Homo sapiens: one gene and its partner. The protein of the gene in region 1 interacts with the protein of each later gene in a biochemical or structural test. Each region holds a gene or a part of one and is shown in the gene's direction. Other genes may lie near its edges. The genes, in order: PLCB3 and TRPM7.

What was found.
Region 2: the proteins of PLCB3 (region 1) and TRPM7 form a complex in vitro, tested with the Homo sapiens proteins (one study listed by BioGRID).

Annotation. Positions count from the first base shown.
Region 1 is NC_000011.10:64,251,566-64,263,291, forward strand, and holds part of PLCB3 (1-phosphatidylinositol 4,5-bisphosphate phosphodiesterase beta-3), read left to right. Parts: 5' UTR 1-84; coding exon 85-183; intron 184-2,849; coding exon 2,850-2,927; intron 2,928-3,182; coding exon 3,183-3,251; intron 3,252-3,332; coding exon 3,333-3,473; intron 3,474-3,668; coding exon 3,669-3,748; intron 3,749-3,830; coding exon 3,831-3,884; intron 3,885-3,975; coding exon 3,976-4,051; intron 4,052-4,155; coding exon 4,156-4,256; intron 4,257-4,810; coding exon 4,811-4,977; intron 4,978-5,052; coding exon 5,053-5,199; intron 5,200-6,907; coding exon 6,908-7,148; intron 7,149-7,319; coding exon 7,320-7,404; intron 7,405-7,492; coding exon 7,493-7,679; intron 7,680-8,463; coding exon 8,464-8,669; intron 8,670-9,834; coding exon 9,835-9,931; intron 9,932-10,015; coding exon 10,016-10,100; intron 10,101-10,386; coding exon 10,387-10,511; intron 10,512-10,620; coding exon of another isoform or gene 10,621-10,694; exon of another isoform or gene 10,695-10,801; intron 10,802-10,841; coding exon 10,842-10,996; intron 10,997-11,081; and 2 more. UniProt on the Homo sapiens protein: Catalyzes the production of the second messenger molecules diacylglycerol (DAG) and inositol 1,4,5-trisphosphate (IP3).
Region 2 is NC_000015.10:50,555,045-50,566,770, reverse strand, and holds the end of TRPM7 (transient receptor potential cation channel subfamily M member 7), read left to right. Parts: intron 1-4,962; coding exon 4,963-5,093; 3' UTR 5,094-9,613; downstream 9,614-11,726. UniProt on the Homo sapiens protein: Bifunctional protein that combines an ion channel with an intrinsic kinase domain, enabling it to modulate cellular functions either by conducting ions through the pore or by phosphorylating downstream proteins via its kinase domain.

The DNA of each region.
Region 1 (11,726 bases):
CGGAGCGGGCCGCGCGGTGGGAGCAGCGGCGCCGTCGGTCCCCGTCAGGGCTCCGTGGGTCCCCGACCCGCCCCTGGCCGGGCCATGGCGGGCGCCCAGCCCGGCGTCCACGCGCTGCAGTTGGAGCCGCCCACCGTGGTGGAGACCCTGCGGCGCGGGAGTAAGTTCATCAAATGGGACGAGGTAAGCGCGCGGGCCCCTGCTCCGCCCAAATCCCGGGACTCTTTCAGTCAAGCTCGACCAGACGCTGGGGACCCCCACCCCAGCCTCGCCTGCCCGTGGCGCCACCCTCATCCCAGTCTGGCGGCGCCCCGGAAACTTAAGTCCCCGATCGTCTCCGTAATGAAGACTTTGTCCCCCCAACTCCCAGTCCCTCAGCTCTGGAAAATTTGCCTCCACTCCTTGGCGCAGAGACTTTGAACCCCAATAAACCCCGTCCCCCCGTTTTCCATTCGTTCTTCCCACCGCTCCCTGCCAGACTAATTCTCGTTCCCCGATCCTGGCCTGGTGCCCAGACCCCTGCCCAGCACTAGACTCCCCGGCTGCAGGACCCTGACTTCCAGGCTGGCTGGGGGCATCCTCATTCTGGGTGTGTGCCAGGGCGCCCCTACTCTCCCCGGTGCCCTGCCTGAACAGTCCTCGTCCATTCATCATTTTTCCCCCTGTTCTGGTTGGCACCCCTTCGCCCTGCTTCTGGATCCCAGCCCAGCTCCCTGTTCAGATGGGAGCACCCAGTCACCCCCTAGTGGAGACTTTGCCCCCCAAGTTCCTCCACCCCTGGGAACTTTGCTCCCCACTCCTTAGGCTTGGGACCTTGAACCCCAATACATCCTGGCCCCCCTTTCCCTGTCCTGCCCCTGGTGCTTCCCAAATGCCTGTGTCCCCACCTTCGGCTGCCCATCCCCATCCTGGGTGCATCCTCTTCTGCCCCCTGGGCCCTTCCTTCCCTAGGGCCTCCACCCGGCCGGCCTGAGCTTCCTCGCAGCTCCTTCCCAGTCAGGCCACGGGCCTGGAAGACTCTGGGCTCTTTTCCGGCTGGGTGGGGCCCCGGGGTAGGCGTGGGAGCTGGGGGGAGGAGATGGGGGCGTGGCCTGAAGCGGCAGGTGTGCGAGGTGGGGTGCCTGGGGGCCCCAGGGGCCGGGGGAGACCCCTCCCCCCAGGCTGGCCTGAAGGGAAAAGTTTCTTCTTTTCATTCCACTGTGATAAACCCAAATAAGGAAGTGGGAACAGGGAGAGGGCCCTGGGGGTGGGGTGGGGGGTGCTGACGGAGGCTTGGGGCAGGAGAGCAGGGGACCTGGGCTGCCTTTGAGGTCCAGACCCCTGGGGAGAGGTGGGAGGGAAACACTAGGGGCAGTACCCATAGACTCCCCGCTCTGCACACCATTCGGGGGCCTCAGGCCCAGGGTAGGGTTGGGAATCCGGAGAAGTGCTGGGGCTGGGTGTCAGCACACTGAAGTGGGGAGGCCCATGCATCCCCAAATTTTGGGGGCCTTCTGTTCCCAGATGAACGCCCATCTTTTGTAAGCAAAGCCTGCCATGGGTGGGGCTGGTGCAATCCCCATTCTCCAGAAGAGGAAACTGAGGTCTGGAAAGCAGAGAGTTATCCCAGGCCCCACAATGGGGTGTGGCTGAGGCCAGGAGCCGGGAGCCTGGCAGAAGTCTCCGCTCCCTGCTTCCCAGGTCACAGGACGCTGCAACCACACTGCCTGCAAGCAGGTCCTGGCTCCAGTGATCTCGGGCAGGCTACGAAGTGTCCCTGTAACTCAGTGTCCTCATCTGTAAAATGGGAGTGACAACAGCACATGCCTCTTAGGCTGGTTAGGAGGCCTTTGTGTGCTCGAAGATGCTAGGTGCATAGAACTGTACCTGGTGCGCAGTAGGGGCGGTGTGCGTATATGAGATGTATTGATAATAATAGTATTGTCCACCAGACACTGAGATGCATTTTGGGGGTGGCACCCAACATGAGGTGGGGTCCTTTTCTGTCTGGAAGAACCTGGAATAGGAGGGTTCTACCTGTAGCCACTTGTTCACTCTGGCCCTGGCCGAGTCTAAGCCCTGGAGGACAGCCCCTCTGGCTGCTGGTCCTGAGTCACACAGGGTGGCCCTGGTAGTGTGCCAGGGACCGGGCCCTTCTTAGAAAATGGGGCTGGCATGCACTTCCCTGCCCCCTGCCAGCTGCACGGCTGTTTGAGGGAGGAAGAGCTCACTGCCCAGTCCTGAGAGTAGGGCAAGTCCCCTTCTAGGGGGACTGTTCTTCTACGAGATGGGGATGAGCTTTGAGGCTGTGAGGACCCCGGCAGATGTGGTAAGGTGGATAATGGGCTTTGAGGCAGACCACAGGGCTATCGTGATGTCCCAAGGGATGCAGAAGGGCAGTGGGAGTCAGACTTCTCACTTTCATGCCTTAAACATTCTGCAGTGGGGTGGATTGGGGGGCTGCCACTGTCACAGAGCTCTCAGCACTTCTGGGGAAACTGAGCCCAGGATGGGGGCTGGGGACCTCTTCCAGGGGGTGGGTCAGATTTCACGGGTGGAGAAGGAAGGGCAGGGTGTCCTGGCAAAGGGAACATGAGACAAAGCCCTGGGAAAGGTCAGGTAGAATCCTAGGGCCAGAGGGAGGTGAGGCTGGGAAGAGGCTTTGAGGTAGGTGTGACACTAAATGTCACACCTAGGACCTTGGCTTTGTTCTGAGGGCCACAGGCAGCCACACAGGACCTGTGGACTGGATGAGGTTTCGTCTTAGCTCATGGGCAGGAACTCTGGGGTGCATGATGGGAGGGCCCCAGGGGCCAGGCCTGCACCACAGCCCTCACTTCCTGACCCCTGCTGCCCTGTGCTGTCCTCAGGAGACCTCCAGTCGGAACCTGGTGACCCTGCGTGTGGACCCCAATGGCTTCTTCTTGTACTGGACGGGCCCCAACATGGTGAGGGTGGGCGCTGGTGCAGCTCGCTCAGGCCAAGGACCCCTGTCCCAGACCCCTGCCCTGCCCGTGGGGGTGGGGCCCGGCTGCAGGCTGACCTCTCCCACTGCTGCCCAGACAGGAAGTGCTCAGGGCAGGAGCTGAGGCTGGGGCTATAGCCAGGGGCTGGCCATTCCCTGGCCTGGGTAGAGAGCTTGGAAGCTCCTGGCTATTGCCCTGCAGCCTCTCATACTCAGCCTGGCATCTGGTTCCCCCCAGGAGGTGGACACACTGGACATCAGTTCCATCAGGGACACACGGACAGGCCGGTACGCCCGCCTGCCCAAGGTGAGTGATGAGCCTGGGAGTGAAGACCACAGCGAGGCTGTGCGGGAGCCCCCTCTTCACCCTTCGCTGTCACCTACTCAGGACCCCAAGATCCGGGAAGTTCTGGGCTTTGGGGGTCCCGATGCCCGGCTGGAGGAGAAGCTGATGACGGTGGTGTCTGGGCCAGACCCAGTGAACACAGTGTTCTTGAACTTCATGGCCGTGCAGGATGACACAGCCAAGGTGGGCTGGCACCAAGGGGACGAAGGGGGAGTCACTGTCTTATTCTGTGAGTCGGCCGTCACTTACCGAACACCTGCTGTGTTCTAGGCTGCTCTGTGACCTACTGTGTACCAGAGGCAGTTGTGGACCTGGGTTGTGGCTGGGCAGCCCCTGTGTCCCCCACTCACCGCCTCCCCGTGTATACTGGCCCCCCAGGTCTGGTCTGAGGAGCTATTCAAGCTGGCTATGAACATCCTGGCTCAGAACGCCTCCCGGAACACCTTCCTGCGCAAAGCGTGAGCCCCAGGCCACCCGAGGGGGAGCCGGGGGGTTCACGTGGCCGTTTTCAGGGTGTGACCTCTTCATCTGCCTTCCCAGATACACGAAGCTGAAGCTGCAGGTGAACCAGGATGGTCGGATCCCCGTCAAGAAGTGAGCACCCCTTCCCCCAGCACCTTCCTCCTGCCCTGACCTTGGTGACCTTTGTCCTCCACTGACCCTGAACCCCTCCTGCCCGCATCAGCATCCTGAAGATGTTCTCAGCAGACAAGAAGCGGGTGGAGACTGCGCTGGAATCCTGTGGCCTCAAATTCAACCGGGTGTGTGGGGTGGGGACAGGGGCGGGGTGGGGTGTCACGGTGGGCACCCACCCTTACGGGGCTGCCCGCCCCTGGCTTCTCACCCCACACTCCTCGACCTCCAGAGTGAGTCCATCCGGCCTGATGAGTTTTCCTTGGAAATCTTTGAGCGGTTCCTGAACAAGCTGTGTCTGCGGCCGGACATTGACAAGATCCTGCTGGAGATGTGAGTGGGCCCGGCCTGCCTCACAACCCCTGTGCTCTGTGTTTAGCTTCTGCTTAGCGTGCCTCTAGCTCAATGGGGAGAGGGGAAACTGGTGGGCCGGGTCCTGGAGCGCCAGGGGGCGGAGGGGTGCCCAGGGAGAACCTGTCGGTGATGTTCCTGTACTCAGACCCGCCGTTTCTGCCCCTCAGTTACAGGCAGCTCTGGGCTAACCCTGTGCCAGGGTTGGTTTAATCAGCCCACTCTGCAATGGGGTCCAAGCCTCAGGTGTGTTGTGAGGTCTGGAAGCGAGGGGTGGTGGGCTGACCACTTGGCAGCTCCTAAGCCCTGGCCATTGCTGGTGCCCACTAGTCTGCTGCCTTGACAATCCTGAGTAGTCAGGAGAGTAAAGGGGGAAACTGAGGCCCAGAGGTTGGCCATGACTCACCCAGAGTCCCACTCACTGGGTGCCAGATCCAGGGGCAGGCCTTCTGACTCCCTTGCCCAGGGCAAGGGCTTGGCGACGGGGTGGGAGCCCTGCCAGGCTCCATCCTGACCCAGCTTCCTGTCCCCTCCAGAGGCGCCAAGGGCAAGCCATACCTGACGCTGGAGCAGCTCATGGACTTCATCAACCAGAAGCAACGCGACCCGAGACTCAACGAAGTGCTGTACCCGCCCCTGCGGCCCTCCCAGGCCCGGCTGCTCATCGAAAAGTATGAGCCCAACCAGCAGTTTCTGGAGCGAGGTGAGCTGGCTGGGGTGCAGGTGGGTGGGGGCAGGTGGGACCCCAGCTGACCCTGCTGATCCTCTCCCACCCCAGACCAGATGTCCATGGAGGGCTTTAGCCGCTACCTGGGAGGCGAGGAGAATGGCATCCTGCCCCTGGAAGCCCTGGATCTGAGCACGGACATGACCCAGCCACTGAGTGCCTACTTCATCAACTCCTCGCATAACACCTATCTCACTGGTGAGTGGGGAGCAAGGGTGGCACCCGTGACCTCTGCCCTGTGACCCTTGCACAGCCCCACTCCTCCTGGGGCACAGTCCTTTTGGCCCATTTGCTCATTCATTGGCCAGTGCTGGGGATGCAGGCAGGGAACAGGCAGCCAGCCCTGAGCAGTGGGGCCTCATGGTGGCTTTCCCAGGGAAGGGCTGGAACAGCTTGTGTTAGGGCCTGCAGCAGGAGAGACTTCAGGGTCCTTTTTTTTTTTTTTTTTTTTTTTTGAGACAGAGTTTCGCTCTTGTTGCCCAGGCTGGAGTGCAATGGCACGATCTAGGCTCAGCGCAACCTCTGCCTCCCAGGTTCAAGCGATTCTCCTGCCTCAGCCTCCCAAGTAGCTGGGATTACAGGCATTCGCCACCACGCCCGGCTAATTTTGTATTTTTAGTAGAGATGGGGTTTCTCCATGTTGGTCAGGCTGGTCTCAAACTCTCAACCTCAGGTGATCCGCCTGCCTCGCCCTCCCAAAGTGCTGGGATTATAGGCATGAGCCACCTCGCCCAGCCTGCAGGGTGCTTTTAAGAGGCTGGAAGGGGGTTGGGTGCGGTGACTCATGCCTGTAATCCCAGAACTTTGGGAGGCTGAAGCAGGCAGATTACTTGAGCCCACGTTTTGAGACCAGTCTGGGCAACATAGCATGACCCCATCTCTACAAATAATTTTTAAAAAATTAGCTGGGCATAGTGGCGCATGCCTGTGGTCCTAGCTGCTTGGGAGGGTGAGGTGGGAGTATCGCTTGGTTCTGGGAAGGTTGAGGCAGGAGTAAGCTGTGATTGCACCACTGCACTCCAGCCTGGGTGACAGAGTGAGAGACCCTTTTCTAAAAAAAAAAATTAAATAAATAATAAAAAAGCAGAAAGGAAGCTGGTGCGGCAGGGTGCAGAGTGCTGGAGATAGGTGCCTGCTAAGAGAGGGAGAGCAAGGCAGGGCTAAGCCCAGGGGCCTAGAGGCACTTGGATTCATCCTGGGTGTGAGGAAGAGGCTTTTTGGAGGGTGAAGCAGAAGAGGTGATGTGACCTGATATGATATGTTTTTAGAAGGATGATGCCAGGTGCTCTATAGAGATTGGATTGAGGCCAGGCACAGTGGTTCACACCTGTAATCCCAGAACTTTGAAAGGCTGAGGCGTGTGGATCACCTGAGGTCAGGAGTTCGAGACCAGCCTGGCCAACATGGTGAAACCCCATCTCTACTAAAAATACAAAAATTAGCCAGGCATGGTGGTGGGCAACTGTAATCCCAGCTACTCGGGAGGCTGAGGCAGGAGAATCGCTTGAACCAGGGAGGCGGAGGTTGCAGTGAACCGAGGTTGTGCCACTGCACTCCAGCCTGGGTGACAGAGCGAGGTTCCGTCTCAAAAAAAAAAAAAAAAGAGATTGGATTGGAGGCAGGGAGGGCTGGAGTCTTCCACACAGGAGGTGGTGTGAGCTGTGCCAGGGCTGAGGTGGGTGGAGGGAGTGAGGAGAGGGAGGGATTGTTGAGGCAGTGGGGAGCTATAGTGAGTCTCAGGGATGACTCCCCCCAGCTCACGCTGGTGGGATGGACAGGTGGTGGGTATCCATCTGAGAGATGGAGAGCCCTCTGCAAATCCAGCATGTCCTGGTTCCAGGTGGGGCCGGGGTGGTGAGGAGCTGGGCTGGTGGGCGGCCTCGGTGACAGAGCCTCGCCGCCCCAGCGGGGCAGCTGGCTGGGACCTCGTCGGTGGAGATGTACCGCCAGGCACTACTATGGGGCTGCCGCTGCGTGGAGCTGGACGTGTGGAAGGGACGGCCGCCTGAGGAGGAACCCTTCATTACCCACGGCTTCACCATGACCACAGAGGTGCCTCTGCGCGACGTGCTGGAGGCCATTGCCGAGACTGCCTTCAAGACCTCGCCCTACCCCGTCATCCTCTCCTTCGAGAACCATGTGGACTCGTGAGTGAGCCCCTGGCATGAAACCCCATGGACCGGGGGACAGTCTTCCAGCTTCAGTGCTGTTGGACTGCTCAGGGACCTCCAACCCTGCGAACGGCCACTGACATGTCCCGTAGACCTCAGCTTCCTCTCTGGGGGAGGGATCTCTGACCTCTGACCTCGGTTCCGCAGGGCAAAGCAACAGGCAAAGATGGCTGAGTACTGCCGCTCCATCTTTGGAGACGCGCTACTCATCGAGCCTCTGGACAAGTACCCGGTACGGGAGCTCGGAGCGAGGGGGGTGGCATGGGGGCCAGGGTGCTGCGGACCCGGTCCAGGGCCCTGACTCGTCCATGCCTGCCCAGCTGGCCCCAGGCGTTCCCCTGCCCAGCCCCCAGGACCTGATGGGCCGTATCCTGGTGAAGAACAAGAAGCGGCACCGACCCAGCGCAGGTGGCCCAGACAGCGCCGGGCGCAAGCGGCCCCTGGAGCAGAGCAATTCTGCCCTGAGCGAGAGCTCCGCGGCCACCGAGCCCTCCTCCCCGCAGCTGGGTAGGCCCCAGCCCGGCCCGCCACCCTGACTTGACCCTAGCCTCTGGCCTCATGCTCCAGGCGCCGTGACACTTCATCCCAGACCCCCAGCCCACCCTCCTGCCTCGCTGTGCGCCTGTTCCCACAACCGGCCTGTCTCCTCACCACCTGTCGGCTGGTGTGGGGCCTCTGACCCCTGACCTCAGGTGCACGTCTCACCCAGCTGCACCCCAACTCCTGACTCCCAACCTCAGCCTCTCACCTCTCAGAGCCTTCCCACAACCCGGTGATGGCTCTGAAGGCTGACCTCTGACCTCAGTAAACCACATCCCACACTGGGTGTGACCTCAGACCCCTAAGCCCGCATTGAGTTCACCTGCCCAGTTGGTTATCATTTCAGCTGACCTCTGACCTCTCACCCCTGACTGTTCACCTCACTATGCCCCCTCCTTAGACATGGCTCTGACTTACCCCTGACCTGTAACCTCTCTATGTCATCCCTTACCCCGCTATTAGGGCTGTGGTATGCTACTTCCTGACTTCTCACCCCACTGAACCACCCTATCTGCCTCCCTGCTGAATATCACTGCAGACCTTTACCTTTGACCTATGACCCCTCTCAACCCATACTGGGTTAATACCATCTGACCTCGACCTCTTGGCCTCTCCCCAAGCCACACTGCCCTGAGAGTACCCCTTGAATTCCCCACTGAGTCACCTCGGCACACACTGGGAAAAACCCCTCCAGACTTCCTAAGCAGCTGTGTGGTCCTGACCCCTCACCCTGTGGCCCTGTCCTCTGCAGGGTCTCCCAGCTCTGACAGCTGCCCAGGCCTGAGCAATGGGGAGGAGGTAGGGCTTGAGAAGCCCAGCCTGGAGCCTCAGAAGTCTCTGGGTGACGAGGGCCTGAACCGAGGCCCCTATGTTCTTGGACCTGCTGACCGTGAGGATGAGGAGGAAGATGAGGAAGAGGAGGAACAGACAGACCCCAAAAAGCCAACTACAGATGAGGTCAGGCCCACAGGGTGGGCAGGTCGGGGAGGTAGCATCTATTTACCTCCCAGGGGGCTGGGTCTGACCATCAACAAGACTGACATCACCCCTGCCTCCTGGGGCTCAGTGTGGGTGTGAGTGAAGGTGGGAGGAGGGCTCTTCAGTCATCAGGCATGGAAACAAGCATACAGTTCTGCTGGTGATGTGGCCTGGGAGGTGCGAGTTAGGGTACAGAACTGGCAGAGGATAGGGAGTCTACCCTGGGCAGGGAGGTGGGGCAGGGAGACCTCAGGAAGGGGGACAGCATGTACAAAGGTCCTGGGGCAGGGCCAGGGGGTGCAGGAGCGGGGAGCATTGTCATGGGGAGCATTGAGTAGCTGTGAGGAATGGTACAGAAAAAATCAGTCTGAGCTGGGCGTGGTGGCTCACACCTGTGATCCCAGCTACTCGGGAGGCTGAGGCATGAGAATCCCTTGAACCTGGGAGGTGGAGGTTGCAGTGAGCTGAGATTGCACCATTGCACTCCAACGTGGGCTAAAAAGGGAGACACTATCTCAAAAAAAAAAAAAAAAAAAAAAGACATCATTGCTATAAAGACAATTACTGGAGCAATTAGTGAAATTTAAAGATGGACTACATATTAGATAATATGTTAATGTTTTGTTTCCTGAATTTAATTATTGTATTGGAGTTATAGAAGAGAATGTCCATATATGCTGAAGTATTTATGGGTAAAGGGTCATGATGTCTATAATTTACTCCCAAATGATTCAGTAAAAGTAATGATAATTATAACACCTATATGGGCCAGGCGAGGTGGCTCATGCCTGTAATCCCAGCACTTTGGGAGGCTGAGGTGGGCGAGTCACCTGAGGTTGGGAGGTTCCAGACCAGCCTGGCCAACATGGTGAAACCCCATCTCTACTAAAAATACATAAATTAGCCGGGCAAGGTGGCGGGCGCCTGTAATCCCAGCTACTTGGGAGGCTGAGGCAGGAAAATTGCTTGAGCTGGGTGGTGTCCAGGGCGCATCAGTGAGACCCCGGGGAGAAGACTGTCGGCACCACCAGCAGTGTGTATATAGTGCTGGGAAGAGGGTCAGCACCTCCTTCATGGGGGGCAGGTGAGGGAATGGCCAGCTGTGGCGGGAATGGCACTGCTGACCCTGGGTTGGGGCCCACAGGGCACAGCCAGCAGCGAGGTGAATGCCACTGAGGAGATGTCCACGCTTGTCAACTACATCGAACCTGTCAAGTTCAAGTCCTTTGAGGCTGCTCGAAGTGAGTGGGGGTGGGTGGCAGGCATGGGAGCTTGCCCAGCTCAGCCCTGCCAGGTCTGACGCCCTTTCTTGGCTCACCCCTAAGAGAGGAACAAATGCTTCGAGATGTCGTCCTTTGTGGAGACCAAGGCCATGGAGCAACTGACCAAGAGCCCCATGGAGTTTGTGGAGTATCCTTTGAAGGTGCTGTGGGCGGGCAGGCCAGGGTGGGGCGCTCGGAGGCCGGCTCCGGTGTTCTGTCCCCACATATGCCACCTGCACAGGGTGCTGGCCCTCCGGCGGCCCTCCTGCACCCTGGCCTGGGGCTTGGGCAGATCCAGGCAGTCTCAGGGGGCATGGCTAGGCTAAGAAACAGAGGCCGGGTGTGGGGGTCACAGGAGCACCTGGCTGAGGCCGGAGGTGGAGGCTGATGGGGTGGGCCCTGGCACCTGTGTGGCCCCTGACCACCAATCTCAGATACAACAAGCAGCAGCTCAGCCGCATCTACCCCAAGGGCACCCGCGTGGACTCCTCCAACTACATGCCCCAGCTCTTCTGGAACGTAGGGTGCCAGCTTGTTGCGCTCAACTTCCAGACCCTCGGTGAGCCCTGGCCCCCTCCATCTTGACCCCGACCCTCAGTCTTACTGACTTCTGACCCACGATCCTGCTGGTCTTGCCTGAATGGACCTCTGACCCTGTCTCATCCCAGATCCCAGGGGAACCCAGCTCCCGACTCACCCCGCCTCCTGCCCTTGGCTGATACCAGACCCCTCCCCTGTCTGATCTGTCCTGGATCCGGACCCTGATGCCATTTGAGCCCGCCCCTGACCCTGGACCTTGGATGCCATCTGACCTGATGATCTCCCATTCCCCACATGGCACCGTCCTGCCTGATCCCTGCCCCTGCTCGACGTGCCCGTGGCACCCCAGATGTGGCGATGCAGCTCAACGCGGGCGTTTTTGAGTACAACGGGCGCAGCGGGTACCTGCTCAAGCCGGAGTTCATGCGGCGGCCGGACAAGTCCTTCGACCCCTTCACTGAGGTCATCGTGGATGGCATCGTGGCCAATGCCTTGCGGGTCAAGGTGGGGCTTGCGGGCGGCTCAGGCCAGGGGTGTCCTGGGGGCAGGACTCTCAGCATCCGCCTCACCCTCCTTGGCCCACCCCCAGGTGATCTCAGGGCAGTTCCTGTCCGACAGGAAGGTGGGCATCTACGTGGAGGTGGACATGTTTGGCCTCCCTGTTGATACGCGGCGCAAGTACCGCACCCGGACCTCTCAGGGGAACTCGTTCAACCCCGTGTGGGACGAAGAGCCCTTCGACTTCCCCAAGGTGAGCCTGGCCCCTGCACCCGCCCAGGCACAGGCAGATCCAGCCCAGACCGCCCCGACTCTCAGGTGGGAGAACAGGAACCAGGCACACCGTTGGCGACTGGGGATCAGAAAGTGGGGGGTGCCATGGGTCCCCCAGGACCTGCCTGTCCGAGCGTCAGTCTCCCTGCCCTCCTTAGGGTAAGAGACCAGGGTGAGAAGGTGAGATGGGGGTTGGGGGGTGTCAGCTAGACGTCTTGTGTCCCCTGCGAGGAGTGGACACAGCCTACCCTGTCTCCGAGGCAGGAGCTGAGGTCACAACCCCAAGCTCATATCCGCTCTTCAGCACCCCGCACGGCCCTGCATGGACGCGGCCTCTGCTCCCAGCCTGGGCATGTGTGTTCTTGGTTTCCTGCTCATGACTCACTCCCGTTTCTAAACTGGCAATGACCAGAACTGTCTGTGGGGGCCCTGGAGGGGCCTGGCTGCCTGTCATCTTGCCTCA
Region 2 (11,726 bases), on another chromosome or scaffold:
TTTGTTCTTTTTCTAGTTTATTAAAGTAGAAACTTAGATTATTGATTCTCGGATCTTTATTTTATTTATTTATTTTGAGATGGAGTCTCACTCTGTCACCAGGCTGGAGTGCAGTGGCGTAATCTCTGCTCACTGCACCCTCCACCTCCCAGGTTCAAACGATTCTCCTGCTTCAGCCTCTTGAGTAACTGGCACTACAGGTACGTGCCACCACACCCAGCTAATTTTGTTACTTTTAGTAGAGTCAGGGTTTCACCATGTTGGCCAGGATTGTCTTGATCTCTTGACCTCGTGATCTACCCGACTCGGCCTCCCAAAGTGCTGGGATTACAGGTGTAAGCCACTGCGCCCGGCCTCAGATGTTTATTTCTAACAAGAGATTGAGTGCTATAATTTTCCCTCTAAGCATTGTTTTAGCTCCATCCCTCAAATTTGAGTATATTTTATTTTCATTTTTATTTACTTTAAAATAATTATAATTTCAGTTGTTATTCCTCTTTGATGTATGGATTGTCTTGTTTAGTTCTTAAATAGTTTAAAATTTTACAAATGTCTTTAATTGATTTCTTGCTTAATTCTATTATAAAAGAAACATACTTTGTACTATTTCAATTAAATTTTTTTTAATTGAAGTACAAGTTTATGGAGCTGGGTTCAGTGGCTCACACCTGTAATCCCAGCACTTTGGGAGGCCGAGGCAGGTGGATCACCTGAAGTCAGGAGGTCGATACCAACCTGGCCAACATAGTGAAACCCCATCTCTACTAAAAAATACAAAAATTAGCTGGGTGTGGCAGTGGGTGCCTGTAATCCCAGCTACTCAGTAAGCCAAGGCAGGAGAATCACTGGGACCTGGGAGGCAGAGGTTGCAATGAGCCAAGATTGCGCCACTGCACTCTGGCCTGGGCGACAGAGCAAGACTCCGTCTCAAAAAAAAAAAAACAAAAAGAGTTTATGGTCTCTGAGCATTCCATGTGCTTTGGAAAGTAATGTATATTCTGCTATTGTTGGATGGAGTATTCTGTAAATATTAATTAAAGTTTGTTGCTAGTGTTCGGAGTTCTTGTATCCTTGCTGGTTTTCTGTGTATTAGTTCTATTGATTAACTAGAAAGGAAGTCTCCAAATATAATTGGATTTGTCTGTCTTGCTTTTCAGTTCTGTCAGTTTTTCCTTCATGTGTTTTGAGGCGTTGTTCTTAGATGCATACACATATACTATTGTTAATGTCTTCTTGGCGAATTGATTATTTTATCATTGTGTATTAATAATATCATGGTAATTTTCCTTATTTTGACGTATACTTTTTCTAATATTAACATAACCACTCCAGCTATCTTTTGATTAATGTTTTCATCATATACCTTTTGCCAGTCTTTTTTTCAAAACATACACACACACATCTATATATAATTATATTTAAGGTGGGTTTCTTGTAGACAGCATATACTGAGGTTCTTGATTTTGTTTTAAATTTAAACAGTTTCCATTTTTTAAGCCAGCACGGTACCCCTGTAATCCCAGCACTTTGGGAGGCTAAGGAGGGCAGATCATTTGAGGTCAGGAGTTCGAGACCAGCCTGGCCAACATGGTGAAAACCTATCTCTACTAAAAATACAAAAATTAGCTGGGCGTGGTGGTGGGTGCCTGTAATCCCAGCTACTTGGGAGGCTGAGGCAGGCGAATTGCTTGAACCCGAGAGGCACAGGTTGCAGTGAGGAGAGATTGCACCACTGTGAGACAGAGTGAGACTCCATCTCAAAAAAAAAAAGCAATCTGGCCCAGATCCTTCATTTTCTAGATAATATAATTAAAGTTGAGATGATTTGCTCATTGATACACTTACTAGTTAACAATATAATTAAGGTGAGCTATAATTGTGTTTCTCTCCACTGTTCTTTGTACAGTAATCGCAGATTAGCTTATATCCCTAAAGCCATACTGACATAGTCTTGAATTTAAAATTTATCAAAAATAATTAATATAGTTGCAAATATGTTTGGATTGTTTAATATAGGCTGTTTCTTAGATTAAAATTAACAGTTTATGATTCAGTGAGGTCAAATATTTTTATTTTTTAAAAAATAAATTAGTTCATATTCTGAGTATCAGTTATATTTTATATGGAGATAAAAATATAAGGGTTTACGCCATGACACACATATACCTATATAACAAACCTGCATGTTCTGCACGTGTATCCTTTTTTTTAAAAAAATAAAAACATACATATATATATGTTAATGCATGACTTGGTTAGTTTATAATGTTGATATTACTGCATTGTTTCCAGTTCTGCAACTATTTTCATCTATGTCTGTAACTTCTTAAGTGATTTCTTCTTGTCCCATACCTATAAATATGTTTATGTACTTATCATAGCAAATCTGTCTGAAGACTTGACATATTTCCCAAGCTCCTGTTTCTGTTCAGCTACCTATATTTCTACTTGGATACTATTTTATTTTATTTTATTTTATTTTATTTTATTTTATTTTATTTTATTTTATTTTATTTTATTTTTTGAGACAGTCTCACTCTGTCACCCAGGCTGAAGCAGAGGGGTCCATCCTTTTGGCTTCCCTGGGCCACATTGGAAGAAAAATTGTTGGGCAGGCACCATGGCTCATGCCTGTAATCTCAGCACTTTGGGAGGCCGAAGTGGGCAGATCACTTGAGGCCAGGAGTTCAAGAGCAGCTTTGCCAATTATGGCAAAAACCAGTCTCTACTAAAAATATAAAAATTGGCCATGTGTGGTGTCACAGGCCTGTAATCCCAGCTACTTGGGGAGGCTGAGTCACAAGAATCGCTTGAACCACAGAGGTAGGGGTTTCAGTGAGCCGAGATCGTGCCACTGCACTTCAGCCTGGGCAACAACAAGACCTTGTCTCAAAAAAAAAAGAAGAATTGTCTTGGGCTACACATAAAATACACTGTCACTACCATAGCTGATGAGCTTAAAAAAATGCAAAAAAATGCCATCATGTTTTAAGAAAGTTTATGAATTTGTGTTGGGTTGCATGTGGCCTGTGGGCCGAGGGTCGGGCAGGCTTGCTATAAAGCATCTTTAGTAACGTGTCCAATCCAAAATTCTTGATTTATATCTCCCACCCTACATAGAACTCTGTTTCCCTATCTTATTAATGGTTACCCAGTTGCTCAAGTCCAAAACCTAAAACTATCCAATTCTTCTTTTCCCTTGCCCTTCATAGCCAATTCATCAAATTCTGTCTGTTCTAATTTTGAAATCTCCCTAGAATTCATCTGCTCTTCTCTGTCTTCATGGCTACCACCTTGTTTCCTGGACTGCTGCCACCCATCCTCTCACAAGAGTTTTCATAGTCATCAGAATAGTTCTTGAAACAAATCTGATGATGTTCCTCTCTTGAGACTGCTTAAAACCTTCCAGTGGATTTGTATTGTATCTGTACTTCTCATCATAGCTTGTATCTATGATGTATAAATGAAGATCAGCAAACTTCTGTAAAGGGCAAGGTAGCAAATATTTTAGGCTTTGTAGACCATGTGGTCTGTCCCAGCTACACAGTTCTACCGTCGTGGTGTGGAAATAACCACAGACTGTGAACAAATGAGTGTGACTGCATTCCAGTAAAACTACTTACAAAAACAGGCAACAGACCAGATTTGGCCCACAATCTGTAGTTGACAATCTTGGGCCATTAACTGCTGCTTGAGCTCAATTTCTACTAGTTTTCCTCTCATTCACTATGTAGAAGCCACACTGTCTTCTTACCATTCGCAAAGCACACTAAGTCCATTCCTTCTGACAGTCTTTGCAGTTAACCCTCCCTCTGCCTAGAACACTCCTCCTAGAGCTTTGATAGTTCACTTCTCAATATTAAGGTATTTACTCAAATCTCTTCCTCTGGCTTTCCTGCCCAGACCTGTTTGAAACAATCACCCTATACCATCTTCCATCTGTCCCTCATTATAATTCACTACACTCTTCTCTTCAAAGCACTTTTTTTTTTTTTTTTGAGACAGGATCTCACTCTGTCGCCCAGGTTGAAGTACAGTGGCATGATCTTGGGTCATTGCAATCTCTGCCTACTGGGGCTCAAACAGTCCTCCCACCTCGGCCTTCTGAGTAGCTGGGACTACAGGCGCACATCACCACACCTGGCTAATTTTTGTATTTTTTGTAGAGACAAGAGACTTCACCATGTTGGCCAGGCTGCTCTTGAACTCCTGACCTCAAATGATTCTCTCACCTTGGCCTTTCAAAGTGCTGAGATTACAGGCATGAGCCACTGCACCCTGCCTTCAAGGCACTTTTTACTGCTTATAATTCTGTCATTTTTCTGTTTGCTTATTTTTTGTCACCCACTAGAATATAAGCTCACTGAGACCAGTGAGCTTGTCTGGTTTGTTCACTGCTACATTCCCACGCCTACATGAGTTTCTGACTCATGGTCAATATGTAATTATTTGTTGAATGAATGAATGACTTCATTTTTATGTGTATAAATTTGGTGACTACTGAATTTATAACAACCTGATGGAAAACAAGTCTGACATGTTTGGAGAAAAATTGATTAGAAATGATCCTAATTCAGCCGGGCATGGTGGCTCACACCTATAATCCCAGCACTTTGGGAGGCCGAGGCAGGTGGATCACCTGAGGACGGGAGTTCAAGACCAGCCTGACCAACATGGTGAAACCCTGTCTCTACTAAAAATACAAAAAATTAGCCGGGCATGGTGGTGCATGCCTGTAATCCCAGCTATTTGGGAGGCTGAGGTAGGAGAATCGCTTGAACCCGGGAGGTGGAGGTTGCAGTGAACCGAGATCGCGCCATTGCACTCCAGCTTGGGCAACAAGAGCGAAACTCCGTCTTGAAAAGAAAATAAAAGGTTCCTAATTCTCCATTTCTAAGAAATACTAACTTTTTTCTTTTCTCTTTCTTTTTTTTTTTTAATTGTTGTGGGTGTTCAATGTAGATCTGAAGAGGAATGATTATACGCCTGATAAAATTATATTTCCTCAGGATGAGCCTTCAGATTTGAATCTTCAGCCTGGAAATTCCACCAAAGAATCAGAATCAACTAATTCTGTTCGTCTGATGTTATAATATTAATATTACTGAATCATTGGTTTTGCCTGCACCTCACAGAAATGTTACTGTGTCACTTTTCCCTCGGGAGGAAATTGTTTGGTAATATAGAAAGGTGTATGCAAGTTGAATTTGCTGACTCCAGCACAGTTAAAAGGTCAATATTCTTTTGACCTGATTAATCAGTCAGAAAGTCCCTATAGGATAGAGCTGGCAGCTGAGAAATTTTAAAGGTAATTGATAATTAGTATTTATAACTTTTTAAAGGGCTCTTTGTATAGCAGAGGATCTCATTTGACTTTGTTTTGATGAGGGTGATGCTCTCTCTTATGTGGTACAATACCATTAACCAAAGGTAGGTGTCCATGCAGATTTTATTGGCAGCTGTTTTATTGCCATTCAACTAGGGAAATGAAGAAATCACGCAGCCTTTTGGTTAAATGGCAGTCAAAATTTTCCTCAGTGTATTTAGTGTGTTCAGTGATGATATCACTGGTTCCCAACTAGATGCTTGTTGGCCACGGGAAGGGAAATGACTTGTTCTAATTCTAGGTTCACAGAGGTATGAGAAGCCTGAACTGAAGACCATTTTCAAGAGGGACGGTATTTATGAATCAGGGTTAGGCTCCATATTTAAAGATAGAGCCAGTTTTTTTTTTTAAATAGAACCCAAATTGTGTAAAAATGTTAATTGGGTTTTTTAAACATTGTTTTATCAAGTCACTGTTAAGTAGAAGAAAGCCATGGTAAACTGATACATAACCTAAATTATAAAAGCAGAAACCTAACTCACTCGTCAAGGGAAGTTACCTTTTGAGGAAAGTTAAAGTACTTTTTTCCCTATCTGTATCTATAGCAACAACCCAGAACTTACAAACTTCTCCAAAGATTTTATTGATTGTTATATCAAATCAGAATGTAAACATGAACTCTTGCATATATTTAAAATTGTGTTGGAACATTTGAACATGAATGCTGTTTGTGGTACTTAAGAAATTAATTCAGTTGGATTATCATTATGTGATACTGGCAGATTGCAGTGCAACCTTATGCCAATAAAATGTAATTTAACAGCCCCAGATATTGTTGAATATTCAACAATAACAAGAAAAGCTTTTCATCTAAGTTTTATGCTTTAATTTTTTTTCTTTTTTTTTCTTTTTCTTTTGTTTCCTTGGTACTAATTTTAATTTTTATTTGGAAGGGAGCAGTATAAAGCTTATTTGTATTTAGTAGTGTATCTCATAGATACAGACAAGGCAAGAGATGATAAGCTGTTTAAATAGTGTTTAATATTGATTGGGGGTGGGGAGAAAGAAAAAGTGTATTACTTAAAGATACTATATACGTTTTGTATATCATTAAATCTTTAAAAGAAATGAAATAAATTTATTGTTTACAGATGTTTAGTGAGTTTAATCATTCTGAAAAATTATCTGACATTTTCAGGGTGTCAATTTGAGTATCAGTTTTTTTAAATGAACCATTTGTATACCTGTGCTTTTGATCTCCTGTCCTGTACAATGTTTAAATTAATACTGATTTCTTACTGTCTTCTTAGAAATCTGTTTTTTGTTAGGCCAAAAAAGGGCAATATGGGCTGTCTGTTGATTTTTAATTTTATATTGATTATTTTCACAGGATTATAATAGTAGCTATACTTTTTTTTTTTTTTTTTTTTTTGAGACGGAGTCTCGCTCTGTTGCTTGGGCTGGAGTGCAGTGGTGCGATCTCAGCTCACCACAACCGCCGCCTTCCGGGTTTAAGTGATTCTCCTGCCTCAGCCTCCCGAGTAGCTGGGACTACAGGCACACGCCACCATGCCCAGCTAATTTTTATATTTTTAGTAGAGACAGGGTTTCACTATGTTGGCCAGTGTGGTCACAAACTCCTGACCTTGTGAGCCACCGCACCTGGCTGCTAACACTTATTTAGTGCCTACTGTGTACCAGACATTACTCTAAGTATTTCACATATATTAACCTACTTAATCCTTATAACAATGTTATAAAGAAATAGGTGTTATTATCCTGTTTTGCAGATTTGAAAGTCAAGGTGCTAGAGAGGTAAAGTAACGTCCATAAGATTCTTACGTTTATTTAATAATAAGTAGCAACGGTAGGATTTGAACCCAGGCTGGCTGCCTTTCATCTATACTGTTTTTGTTTTGTTTTGTTTTGTTTTGTTTTGTTTTGTTTGTCTTGGTGGGGCATGGTGGCTCATGCCTGTAATCCCAGCACTTCGGGAGGCCAAGGCAGGTGGATCACTTGGGCTCAGGAGTTTGAGACCAGCCTGGGCAACATGGCAAAATCCTATCTCTGCTAAAAAAAAAAATACAAAAATTAGGCCAGGTGCAGTGGCTCATGCCTGTAATCCCAGCACTTTGGGAGGCCAAGGTGGGCGGATCACAAGGTCAGGAGTTCGAGACCAGCCTGACCAACATAGTGAAACCCCGTCTCTACTAAAAATACAAAAAATTAGCTGGGCATGGCGGTGAGTGCCTGTAATCCCAGCTACTCAGGAGTCTGAGGCAGGAGAATTGCTTGAACCTGGGAGGTGGAGGTTGCAGTGAGCTGAGATCGTGCCATTGCGCTCCAGCCTGGGCAACAGTGCGAGACTCCGTCAAAAAAAAAAAAATAACTGGATGTGATGGTGTGCACCTGTAGTTCCAGCTACTTGGGAGACTGAGGTGGGAGGATCACTTGAGCCTGGGAGACTGAGGCAGCAGTGAGCTGAGATCATGCCACTGCTTTCCAACCTGGGCAACAGAGTGAGATCCTGTCTCAGAAAGAAAAAAAAAAAAAAGACAACCTCTTGCTCTGTTGCCCAGGCTGGAGTGTAGTAGCGTGATCATAGCTCACTGCAGCCGTAAACTCCTGGGCTCAAGCAATCCTCCTGCCACTGCCTCTTGATTAGGTGGAACCACAGGCATGCACCACCACACGTACCTAATTTTATATATATATTTTTTTATTTTTCATTTTTATTTATTTTTGTTTTTTTGAGTTGAAGTCTCACTCTGTTGCCCAGGCCGGAGTACAGTGGCACAATCTTGGCTCACTGCAACCTCTGCCTCCCAAGATCAAGCAATTCTCGTGCTTCAGCCTCCAAAGTAGCTGAGATTACAGGTACCCACCATAATGCCTGGCTGATTTTTGTATTTTTCGTAGAGACAAGGTTTCACCTTGTTGGCCAGGCTGATCTCAAACTCCTGACCTCAAGTGATCCACCTCCCCCGGCTACCCAAAGTACTGGGATTATAGGTGTGAGCCACCATGCCTGGGTAACACCCAACTAATTTTAAATATATATTTTGTAGAGATGGGGTCTAGCCTTGTTGCCCACGCTGGTCTCAAATTCCTGGGCTCAAGTGATCCTCTCGCCTGAGCTTCCCAAAGTGGTAGAATTGCAGGCATGAATTGCTGCACCCAGCCTCATCTGTGCTGTGAATTATGTGCTGTATTGACTCTCAAGCATGATGACCATTGGTGGTTTCTGTACCATTTCCTGTTACTTTACTGAAACACACCTACTCCATTAACTTCTTGGGTTAAGTCTAGAAAGTAACAGTTTACTTGTAAACCACATTTCTTATCCCCAATAAGTATTTTTTTAAGATTATTAAAGTTCATTATTACTACCCTATGATGTGAAAGTGTCATTTGCTTAATCTTTTTAATTTTTTATTCTCAACCTCATCTTACTGAAGAGAATAAAACTCTTTTACCATATTCTTAAAATGTGGAATTCTCGGCCAGGTGCAGTGGCTCACGCCTGTAATTCCATCACTTTGGGAGGCCAAGGTGGGTGGATCATCTGAGGTCAGGAGTTCAAGACCAGCCTGGCCAACATGGTGAAACCCCGTCTCTACTAAAAATACAAAAATTATCTGGGTGTGGTGGCGCGTGCCTGTAGGCCCAGCTACTCAGGAGGCTGAGGCAGGAGAATTGCTTGAACCCAAGAGGTGGAGGTTGCAGTGAGCCTAGATTGCTGCCACTGCACTCCAGCCTGGGTGACAGCAGAACTCTGTCTCAAAAAAAAGATGTGGAATTCTTTTCTGCAAATGTTCTCTAATAGTATACCTTCTTCAGTCTGTCGATATATGTATGCTATTATTTTACAAGTAATACATGTTGATTGTATTGGAAATTATAGAAAAGATTATATTGGATTGTTTAGAAAATATTTTTAAATGTGAAGAAAAATATAAAAATTACTCCCTTGTTCCACTTTCCCCACTCTCAAGTCAGACTATGTTGTTTTCATAGTTAGTAGCTAGCAGTCTACCCCACTAGATTATATGCTTCACAGAGGGAAGGGACCCTCAAGACTTCACTGGATTGAGTAGCACCCAATACCTTGCTTGCTGCCTGGTTTGTGATGGGCATACTGTAAGAAAAAAAAATCTGAATGACAAAATGTTTTTCCATAATACCAGACTTCCTCTTGAAGAGATGGGTCGTAATGTTGTAGTCTTACATGCTTACGTAGACAATCAAAGCAAGAATACTCAATAAATGGCTATTTACCACTTGAAAGAAAGATCAAGTAATTATTTACAGAAAATGATGTGTCTACACAACAGGGATTTTTGAATTTCTCCTTATTTACCATATCTGATCTTATTGCTTCCTAGCTGGGTTTCAACAAGGCATCTGTATTTAAAGGTCCCAAATGATCTGTGAGCTTTTTCTTAGGAAAATTCCAGGCTAAGGCTCTGGTCCTCTCTAGAATATGATTTTCTAACTTCTTTGGAAACTCCTTAAAGCAGATTTCCATTCCTGGGGCCCATGATTCCACATTGGTGGGCATGAAGATGGGAGAGGATGTGGTTATTCTTCAGAAAAGCCACACACTTCAGGCTAACAGTAAATAGCACCAGTGAACAGAGCACTTTCTTCTTGTGCTGTCCAAACCAACATTAGGCTCTCTCCTTGTATTTCCCTTGGAATTTCTGTGTAATCCTGCATTACAGAATTTTTCTTTCATTTTAATTATGTCAGTATATGTTTCTTAAAGATTAAGAACTATAACATTATTACACCTGAAAGTTTAACCAAAAATATTGTCAAATATGTAATCATTGCTCTAAAAAAAATTTGTTTTAAGTAATTTAATTAGGACACAGAAGGTCCATACATTGCAGTTCCTTGCTAGTTTTGTTTTGTTTTTATTGGAGGCAGAGTCTTGCTCTGTTGCCCAGGCTGAAGTACAGTGGAGTGATAACCTTCGCTTCCAGGTTCAAATGATTCTCCTGCCTCAGCCTCCGAAGTAGCTGGGTCTACAGGCACATGCTGCCACACCAGGCTAATTTTTGTATTTTTAGTAGGGACGGTGTTTCACCATGTTGGCCAGGCTGGTCTCGAACTCCTGACCTCAAGTGATCCACCTGCTTCCGCCTTCACCTCCCAAAGTGCTGGGATTATAGGCGTGAGCCATTGAACCCAGCCAACAATTGCTTGTTTTTAAAGTCTCTTAGTATGTAGGTTCTCTGTCTCATCTTTGCCCCCTGCTTATGTTTTAAAGAACCAACTTACTTGTCCTGAAAAGTTTACTACATTTGAGATTTTGCTGATTGTTTCCTGCATATGTCATAAACTAGTGGTTAGTTAGGTCTAAAGGCTTGATCAGATTCAGTATTGAATTTTTGGTAAGAATGCTTCATTGGTGGGGGTATATAATTCTGTTAGGAAACACATGCCTGGTTGTCTTTTTGATAGTCATTGCCTAGGTCTATTATTAATTAGGTCAGTGGTGCTCATGGTGGGTCACAGACCCCTGAGAGTCTCCCCAGGACAATTTCAAGGTGTACATAACATAAGGTCAAAACTTATAATACTAAGATATTATTCGCCTTTTTCGCTGTATTGAGAGTTTTATTGATGGAGTAAAAGCAGTGATGGGTAAAACTGCCAGAACCTTACCATGAATCAAGTGAAAATTGGAATTTTGGAAAACTTGACTTTAACACCAGTAGCACTACAGCTTCCTAATACTTTCCTAATGAAATCAGTAGTGTTGATATTAAAACTTGTTTTTTGGTTTTTGGTTTTTTTTGAGACGGAGTTTTGCTCTTGTTGCCCAGGCTGGAGTGCAGTGGCGTGATCTCCACTCACTGCAAACCCCGCCTCCCAGGTTCAAGTGATTCTCCTGCCTCAGCCTCCCAAGTAGCTAGGAGTACAGGCATGAGCCACCACGCCCGGCTAATTTTTGTGCTTTTAGTAGAGACGGGGTTTCACCATGTTGGCCAGGCTGGTCATGAACTCCTGACCTCAGGTGATCCACCCGCCTCGGCCTCCCAAAGCGCTGGGATTACAGGCATGAGCCACCGCACCAGGCCAAAAATGATTTTATTTAGATAGTGTATAATGAGATGTGTCAGTGTTTCGAAGATCTGCATAACTAAACCAGTATTTTCGGAATGACCAATGCATAGTATTACAAAATAATGCATGAGTGAAAGATCTAACATAGTAGAAAAGGTTTGTTTACGAGGTTTCAGAGTCTACATTACAGTTAACCTTTAGGAAACTACTTCTCATCCAATTTTCGTGTCCTCATCCTCAAGAATATCCGCAGTTATCTAAAAGGCTATTAAAATACTCCTTCCCGTAAAGAACTACAATAATCAAGACAGTGTATGATACCATG